Regions from separate parts of the Homo sapiens genome. Here region 1 is linked to region 2. Evidence: fine-mapped expression QTL. A gene starts in region 2. The other region holds a variant in brackets. All regions are shown on one strand. Distances are from middle to middle. Region 1 overlaps DDA1 (DET1 and DDB1 associated 1). Region 2 holds the start of NR2F6 (nuclear receptor subfamily 2 group F member 6).

Region 1 (4,319 bases), 76 kb after region 2:
ATTAAGCGTGGTGGTATGTGCCTGTAGTCCTAGCTACTCCAGAGGCTGAGCTGGGAGGATTGCTTGAGCCCAGAAGGTTGAGGCTGTCCGAAAAAAAAGACTCACAGCCCCTCTCTTTTCCCTGTCCCCCAGAACGCTGCCAAGAAGAGAGACCAGGAGCAAGTGGAGCTGGAAGGCGAGAGCTCCGCACCTCCCCGCAAGGTGGCGCGGACCGACAGCCCAGACATGCACGAGGACACTTAAGACTCTCAACTCCACAGGCGCCTCCTGCCAGGTCTGCTCCTCGGTCGCCCACCCGCCTGCCCGCCATGTGTAAGCACCCCGCCCGCCCGCCTCCCTGCCGGCCCATCCACACCCTGCGTCCACACCACTTCCAACCTCATAGGAGCCGATGTATTTATTTTCCTTGAGTTTTTATTTATGCTGTAACCTGTATCAAGCGTTGGTTAAAGGGGACATCAGACCCAGTAGTGTGATGTTGGTAGATGCTTTTTAAAAAAAACAACATTGTCCCCCCGACCCCCGCCTTCCATCGGGCCAGTTCCCCGATTCCTGCCCCCAGTTCTCCAGAGAACCAGAGTGTGTCTGTGAGAGTCTCTAGCGGGGGCTTTACTGTGGCCGGGCGACAGGGGCGGGCCCGGGGTGGCCTGACCTACCAGGACAGCCGAGTGGCCTTCTCCCCCCCAACACCGGTCCAGGCCATTGAGACTCGGTCTTGTCCCACGCTTCGCCCGGAACTTTCCCATGCCCAGGCCTCACTCAGCGTGCACGCACGTTGGGGAGAAGTCGGCCCTTGGGATCTTTCTCTTGAGTCATTTTATTTTTATCATGGACTAGTGCGTGCTCCGTGTCCACCCCAATAAAAGGGTCTTTCCTACTTGACCTCGCGTCTTTGCTCCACACACCTTGGCTGCAGAGGACGGAGCCCCTGGGAGTCATCCCTGTTGTCACCAAGAGGAGTGAGAAGGGCCCCCCACGCCAGGGGCCCCAGGACCGGCTGGATTCTCTCGTGGGCTTGCTGAGGCCACCATGTTCAAGGCCAAGACCTGCCTGGACCATCCCCTCTGCCTCTCCTGTCAAGGTGACCCCAAGGACAGGTCATTCCTGAGAGACGGTCCATGGTGCCAAGGATGGAGCGGGGTCAGCCCCCTGCCTGGGATACCGCCAAGCAGGGCAGCGCACCTGTCAGACACCGCAGAGATGGCCGGCCTCATCCGGGGGCCTGGGGTCTCTGGCCTCTGCTGCTCCCCTGAGGCATGGTGACAGTACAGACGGCATCTGGCCGGTCTTGCTGTCCTAGGTGGTGGCCTCACCCTTGCTGGGTCATAGAGGAGCTGTACAGAAGGTTGGCACCTGGCAGTTGGCATGTGCCATGGCCGCTCATGGGGACCCCTCTTCCGCCAGCTGGGCTGGGTTTGGGGCTGAGCTTGGGTATGTAGGGGTGTTCGGGCTCTGGGCAGAAGGTTTGTGGCCCTGACCACTGAGCCTGGGGCTGGGGGAACACCGCTTCTCCCCTTATTGCCCCCACTGGTGGTGGTGGGGATCTCAGTTTTCTTTTGTTTTGTTTTGTTTGTTTGTTTGAGTTGGGGTCTTGTACTCTTTCCCAGGCTGGAGTGCAGTGGCGTAATCACAGCTCACTGCAGCCTCGACCTCAAGCCTTCCTCCCACCTCAGCCTTCCAAGCCGCTGGGACCACAGGCACCCACCACCATGCCTGGCTAATTTTTTTTTTTTTTTGAGATGGAGTCTCGCTGTGTCTCCCAGGCTGGAGTGCAGTGGCAAGATCTCAGCTCACTACAACCTCTGCCTCCCAGGTTCAAGTGATTCTCCTACCTCAGCCTCCTGAGTAGCTGGGATTACACGCGTGCGCCCCTACACCCAGCTAATTTTTCTATTTTTAGTGGAGACGGCGTTTTGTCATGTTGGCCAGGCTGGTCTCGAACTCCTGACCTCAGGTGCTTCGCCTGCCTCGGCCTCCCAAAGTGCTGTGACCGCACCTGGCTGCCTGGCTAATATTTTAAAAATTTTTTGTAGAGACAGGGTTTCACCATGTTGCCCAGGCTGGTCTCAAACTCCTGGGCTCAAGTCATCCACCTTCCTCAGCCTCCCAAAGTGCTGGGGTTACAGACGTGAACCACCGTGCCTGGCAGAGGTCTCTGTTTTGAGAGCTGAGTCTGAGGGCGTTGGGATGGTGTAGGGTTGGGCCACAGAGCTAGCAGACACTCCGGGCTATGGAGGGTCCGCCTGCCCCAGATTCCACTGTGGAGGGCCCTGCCTGTGTCAGACCCTCGGGCCTAGGCGGCCCATCTCTCCCAAGGACGGAGAGTGCCAGGGTGGGCTCCCGTCCTACACAAGGAGTGGCTGACCAGGCCCAGGCACAGCACAGCCACCCTGCTGTACCTCCCAGCTCCCGGCAGTGTCTACACCACAGTGATGGTGCTACAGGGGCCATGTG[G/A]TCACAGGACAGGTGGTCAGGAAATGCACACTTGACTGCGGTCGATGGTGCCGGGTCCGGCTGAATGCCCTGGAGGCTCCCAGGCCAGCTGGGGAGTCCCAGTCCCCAGGGTTGGTGTGACCTGGGCAGGCCTGCGGTGTCCATCTGTGAATGACTGAGATGGTGGGACTTCAGCTTCCAAGGCCAGGGGCCAGAGTGGGAGCAGGGGGCACTCCCGCCTTTCCCCTCGGCCTGTCTAGACCTCTCTGGCTCCCAGTTTCTGCTTTGAGTGGCTGGGGGCTGTCTCCTGCCTGTGCTGTCTGCCCGTCGCTCTGCAGGGCTGCTGGGCGGGCACCTCCTTCCCCTCCCCTACCTCAGCTCCCTCCTTTGGGGTCTGAGGGCTGTGCCCCAGCTTGCCTCCCTGTGGCCTCCCCCTAGAACCCCTGGGTCTGTCGGGACATGCCCCACCTGGCACACACACCCTGTGTAGCTCCCACTGCCTGTGGGAGGACGCTGGGCCCCTGAGCCGGCCTCTGTCTACCCCTCCTGCCTTTGGGGTCCCCTTTACCCCACTGTTCCCCCAAACTGCCTTCCACCTTCTCCGCCTTTGCACAGGCTGTTCTCCTGCCTCCAGTGAACTCTGACTTCTCCACAGCCTCCCAAAGGGCCCCTTGCTCACACTGGCCCAGCCCTGCAGCATGGCCATGTTGGTCTCTGAGCCTTAAGCCTTTGGATGTGGACACATTTGTCCTCTTCCTGAAAAATGTGAGGGTCTGAGAGGCCACGTTCCTGTTCCTGAGTCATACGACAGAGTCCCAGTGACTTGGGTCTGATGTCTGTCCCACAGTGGGACATCCCTGCTGCATCCCAATGCCACCCCGTGTCCTGGGGACACCCAAATGTGCCATTCTCTCAGTATCACAAGTCGGGGACTGCAGGAGGCTCAGGTGCCAGGTGCCTTCTGATGTTCATGCCACAAGCTCTTCCCACTGTCTCTGGCTCCCCAGACGATGTTCCAGGAGGCGGGTGTGCCAGAAGGGGCCACGTCTTGCAAACCACCGCGCTGTCCTCTTTGAGAAGGAGTCTTACTCAGGACTGGGGCCTGTGCACACATTGTCGCCTCTTTTCAGCACTTAGAGATTCCTTCCTTTGTCTAGTGGCTGAAGCCAGGGCTGAAGTTGGCCTCCAAATCTGGGCCGTCTCAGAGGCGGCGCAGCCTGGAGTTTTCCATCTGTGGCCAAGACCCAGTTTTTGGGAGGAGGCCCTCATGGGTCAAGCCAGCCTGTACCAGGATGGGGGGAGGGGGTTCCCAACCTAGGCCCCAGCCACCCAGACTCCCCCACCCCCACTCCCTTTTCCACTGCTCTGACCTCGGGCACTGTTGAAATATAGTTTTTATTGCATTTCTGCCGTTTTACAAAAATATGACAAAATAAATTAAAAACAAATAAATAATCGCCTGTTCTGTGTGTGTGTGTGTGTGTGTGTGTGTGTGTGTTTTCTGTTGGATTTGTGGGTTTCCTTTCGTTTGGAAAGGAAAACGGCAGATGGGGGGCACCGACCAATACTGGGGGCCCTCGGGGGCTGAAGCGCATTTTGCATTTTGGAGACCGGCCGCCCCTGTGAATGACTGATATTGCATATGAGAAGAGAAGGCAGGGCGGGTAGAGCTAATGCCAGCCGCTGGGCCAGCACACGGCCTGGGGGCTGGGGCTGGGGCTAGGGGAGGGCGCTGGGGTCTCGAGGGGATCCGAGGTGGGCGGTAGCGGTGGGGGCGGGAGGCTGTAAAAGCTGGCGTCTCCCGGCAGGGGCTGGGGGGCGGGTGGGGGCCCGGCCATGGCACAGGGTGGGCACTCGGCAGCGGCCAGGGCCTGGCGGGGGGCGGC
Region 2 (4,372 bases):
CCTCAGGAAGCTCCTGGGACCCCAAAACTGCCTGAGCCCCCCTCCCTTACCCTCCCTAAAGATATGACCAGAGAGCAGGCGGTTTTCCAGCAGCAAGAATGAGGCCAAAGTCTAGTGGCCCACTTTGTGCTGGAGGAGGGAGCAAGGCAGCTCTGCCACACATGGCCACACCAGGCCAGCCCTGACCCGGGACCTGGGGCCAAACTCCACCCTCGGGTACCTGGGGCCCTATTTGGTGGCCTCAGCCAACAAGCCTTCCATCAGCCGTTCTCCCTGGGGCCACTCCGATCCGAACTCAGCGGTCCCCACCCTAGCCCCACAGTTCCCCCACAGTGCCCCCAACTCGGGCAGCGTCCCTCCATGTCCAACGCAAAGCAGGCACCAGGACCTCTCTCTGGGCCTTTGGGCCTCTGTTTTGGGCAGCTGGGAACTGAGACCGTCTAGACGGGCTCCACAGAGACCCTGCATGTTCCTGGGGTGCAGAGTAGGGGCTTATAAACGGACAGATCGGATGCTCGCCCGGGAACGGTGAGAAAAGAACTCCCGGGCTGGACAACCCCGATCGCTTTCCCTGGGGACCTTCCGCCAGAACAGCTAGCAAGGCCACGCCCTGCCAGAGAGGTCTCCGACCTGGGACAGCCCAAGGCTCCTGCTCGGAAACGTTTCACTCCCTGCCCGTCTCAGAGACACCCAAAGTTTGAGGGATTTTTCCAGGAGCCCCAGGTCTGCACCCACCCCTGGGGGAGAGGGACGTTTCAGTCAATTCCGGTGGCCCTGCCGGCCTTCCAGTGGCGATTTCCGGTGACCCAAGGCCCAGAGTGAGCCCAGAGGGGTTCCCTGAGATGGGCAAGCCCAGCTCCCACCCCCACCCCCACCGCTGGGCCCCTCATGCGAAGAAGGCCGCCCCGTGCCACCCCAGCCTCCCTCCGTCTGCCGCCTCCGTAGCCACAGCGACTTTGGAAGTGATATTTGACCCCAAGGGCGCGCCGTATCGATCCGCGCGGCCGCAGACAATGGCCCCTGGACGCTGCGAGCTCCACGGTCCAAGTTCCACGTTCGATTCCCTCGAGGGCATCCCGCGCGCCGGGATCCCCGAGAACGGGTGCCCTGGGGTTGGGTTACCACCCCTGACAGCACCCCTACCCCCACCCCAGCGCGGAGATGACCCCTCCCCAGAGAAAAAGCGGAGGGAAGGAGAAGCAAGTAACTGGGGCAAAAGCCTCCAGGGACCACCTGATGGGGGGGGAACCTGCAACGATGTAGCGCCGACTGTATACACAATCCCAGCCATGGAATGCGGGAGGAGGGTGCTGTGCCCCTATCTCAGAGGGGGCAGTGGAGGCCCAGGGAAGGTCAGCGCCAGGCCCAAGGTGACCGAGCAGGTCAGAGGCCTGCCCCAGGTCGGGGCGGGGTGCACGGCGGCGGCGCGCGGATGGGGGGCTCACCGGCAGGTGTAGCTGAGGTTGCGGCGGATGCTTCGCTTGAAAAAGCTCTTGCAGCCCTCGCAGGTGAAGACACCGTAATGCTTGCCGCTCGACTTGTCCCCGCACACCACGCAGTCCACCTGCAGCCCCGGCCGCTCCTCGTCGCCCGGCTCGGCGTCGCTGGCGGCACCGGGGGGCGAGGCCGAGTCGTCCTCGGCCGCGCGCGGGTAGCCGCCCGCCTTGTCCACGCCGTTCGTGTCGCCGCCGGGGCCGCCCCAGCCGCCGGTCACCATGGCCATAGCCCCAGGGCAGCGGGGCCGGGGCGCCCCCACCGCGCTCTTCCCTCCGGGCACCCCTCTCGGCCCGGGGGACCCTACGCGGCGCGCATTCGGCCCCGGCGCGCGGGGGGCACGGGCTGCACCCCCCAAAAAAGTTTTGCAGCAACTTCCTGCGGCCGGTCCTCGCGCCCGGGCGGAACTGGTCGGGCCGGTTCCAGGCCAACTTTCCCACGCGTGCGCGGGGCCGGGCCCGGGGCCGGGAGGGGCACGCTAGAGGCGCGGGCCGGGGGCCCAGAGGACTCGCGTCCCGCCGCCCTGGGGCCCCGGCGGGGGCGCGCGGGCCATGGCCCGGCCCGAGCCGCGCAGGGGGCGTCCTCTGGCCTGGCCGCCGCTCGCCCGGGGGCTGCGGCCAACTCAGCGGGCCGCCATCCGAGCGCGGGAGGCCGGGGGGAAAGTTTGGCCGCAAGTTGCGCGGCCGCCCGTGGCGGGGGGGGAGGGGCGGCGGGTGCGCGCCGGGGCTGATCGCCGCGCCCCCTGGGTCCCCCGGCGCCCGCGGCTGCCGCTCCGGGCCTGCAGGGCCGCTGGGCCGGCGCCTCTGGAGCTGCCGCCCCCGCTGCGGCCGCTCCTGCCTGGCCTGGGCCTGCGCCTGGGCCCAAGCCTCGCTCTCGCCGCCGCCACCGCCACCGACCCCGCGCGCCGGCCTCGCGCTGCGGCCGGTTTGACACACAGCGTTCCATTCGCGGGGCGGGCGGGGGGCGGGGGCGGGGGCAGGGGCGCGCGCCGCGGGCTGGGGGCGGGCGCTCGTTGCCCCGGCGACGGCCGCCCTTATAAGGGCATGGGTGGCCGCGCGCGGCGCCGGGCGAACGGGCCGGCGGGAGGGACGGGGGCCGAGCGCTGGGCCGCGGGGCCTGACCCTCCCCCGCCTCCCTCTGCCCCTCCCCCCGCACCCCCGCCCTCGCCCTCGCCCAGCTCGGGCCTTAACCCCTGCCGGGCCGCGGCGGGAGCCTCAGCCGCGCCTGCCCTCTGCCCTTCCTTGAGCCTCGCCAAGATGTCTCTCCAAGGCCCTCCCCTCCACCTCTGGCCTTGGACGTTGGGTCGCTCGATCACCCTCGAGGCGCCCCTCGGAACCTCTCCCCACCCCACAGTTCCTGGCAAAGCAATGATGGGGGGCCAGTGGCACCCGGGGGGGGGGTACGCCCCTGCGCAAGACACACGCGCGCGCGAGACAGACAGACACACACACACACACACACACACACACACACACACACACCCTAGATTGTGTTTGCTTCCTCTTCCAGAAAGTCGCCGCGTCTGACCCCCACCCCACCCTTTCTCTGCTCGGGTTAACACCTGGTGCCCGGAATCTCCAGGGGGAAGGGATGTTGTGGTCTGAGACCGGCTGGCCGGGGCCGCGAGGTCAGGGGGCCCCTCTGCAGAATTTCTGGCCTCCGGGGGCAGGGCGCCCACCCGCCCCGCGCGGCTGGAGGCGACAGGCATGCCCTGTCTGGGGGCCTGCCCCTTTTTCCCTTTTAATTTCCTTTTCTTTCTGTGCTTTGCAGAAAGGGCTTGGCCTGGCGGCCGGCTGGACTGCAGATGTCTCTTCCAGGCGCCCTGGAGCCTCGCAGCTGCCGCCACCTCCAACTCACCCCATCCCCCAGTACCGGGGCTGGGGCCCGCCCGACCAGCATTTATTAAGCACCCTTTGTATGCGAGGCCCGGGCTGGCGAGCCTCTGGCTCTGGGCAGGTTAACCTTTAACCGGCTGGACAAGCCCTTCCAGGAGTGACCTTTCACCTCGGAGTCTTGCAGCCCCAGCCACCCAGACTGTGGTCCCACCCCGCCCTGAGCCCAGAGCTGGACACCAGAGCATGCAGCTGGGCCTCTGAGAGCTCTGGCCAGGACAGTGCCTTCTGCGCACCCCCTCCTCTGCCTCCCAGAGCCCTGATGAGACTTGAAGAATTGCCCTCCCTGGAGTAGGGGGAAAGATTCTTAGAGATCTTACAACACTTAAAAAGAAACTGAGGTTCTGGGAGAGCCAGGCACACCCAGCCCTGGGCCTCTCAACCTGCTCCAGGGACGTTCTGGCTGCCTGGGAGGTGGAGGAGGAGGCGTTAGTAAACACGAAAAGCAGGAAGGACTAGGATTAGACATGAGCAAGGACTTCCCGAGGTCTAGAGTCGGGTTCTGCCCACAGCCTGATGTAATCCCTGCTGGGAGAGAGGAAGGCGTGGGTGGGCAGAGACGACCCTTTGGTTCTGAGGCTGCATGGGAATGTGACTGGTAATTTGGGATGAGGGCAGGGATCCTAGGCCCCTTGCCTGGACCTGCTAGGATCTTTGGTGGGGAGCATTGGGGTGGAGGTCTCAGAAGGGATTGAAAAGAGATTTAGATGAGAGACAGGCGCTGTGGCTCACGCCTGTAATCCCAACACTTTGGGAGGCCAAGTCAGGAGGATCTCTTGAGACCAGGAGTTCAAGACCAGCCGGGGCAATAAAGTGAGACCCGTCTTGAGCCCAGGTGTTCAAGGCTGCAGTGGGTTATAATCACGTCACGTCACTCCACTCCAGCGTGAGCAAGACCCTGTCTCAAAAAAAAAAAAAAAAAGAAGAGGGAGAGAAGACTCAAGGAATCTTGAGGGGATTGTGAAGGGGAGGGAGCAAAGAACTAG

What was found. PIP is the estimated chance that this variant, and not a neighbour inherited with it, causes the effect.
Region 1: its variant is fine-mapped to the expression of NR2F6 in whole blood (INTERVAL, PIP 0.99).

Annotation. Positions count from the first base shown.
Region 1 is chr19:17,319,414-17,323,732 of GRCh38, forward strand. DDA1 (DET1 and DDB1 associated 1) reads left to right here. Exons shown (of 5, transcript NM_024050.6): 5 at 133-3,885. The coding sequence ends at 243. It overlaps ANO8 (anoctamin 8), which reads right to left. Exons shown (of 18, transcript NM_020959.3): 18 at 3,810-4,319. The coding sequence ends at 4,104. Among named protein-coding and RNA genes, the nearest start is that of DDA1, 12 kb to the left of the region's middle. RefSeq lists enhancers at 1,943-2,559, 4,101-4,150. The variant G/A (reference allele first, on the strand shown) is at 2,455.
Region 2 is chr19:17,243,498-17,247,869 of GRCh38, forward strand. NR2F6 (nuclear receptor subfamily 2 group F member 6) reads right to left here and starts at 2,422. Exons shown (of 4, transcript NM_005234.4): 1 at 1,446-2,422. The coding sequence starts at 1,723. RefSeq lists silencers at 1,773-1,842, 1,853-2,012, 2,413-2,662, 3,063-3,142 and enhancers at 2,406-3,355, 4,305-4,372.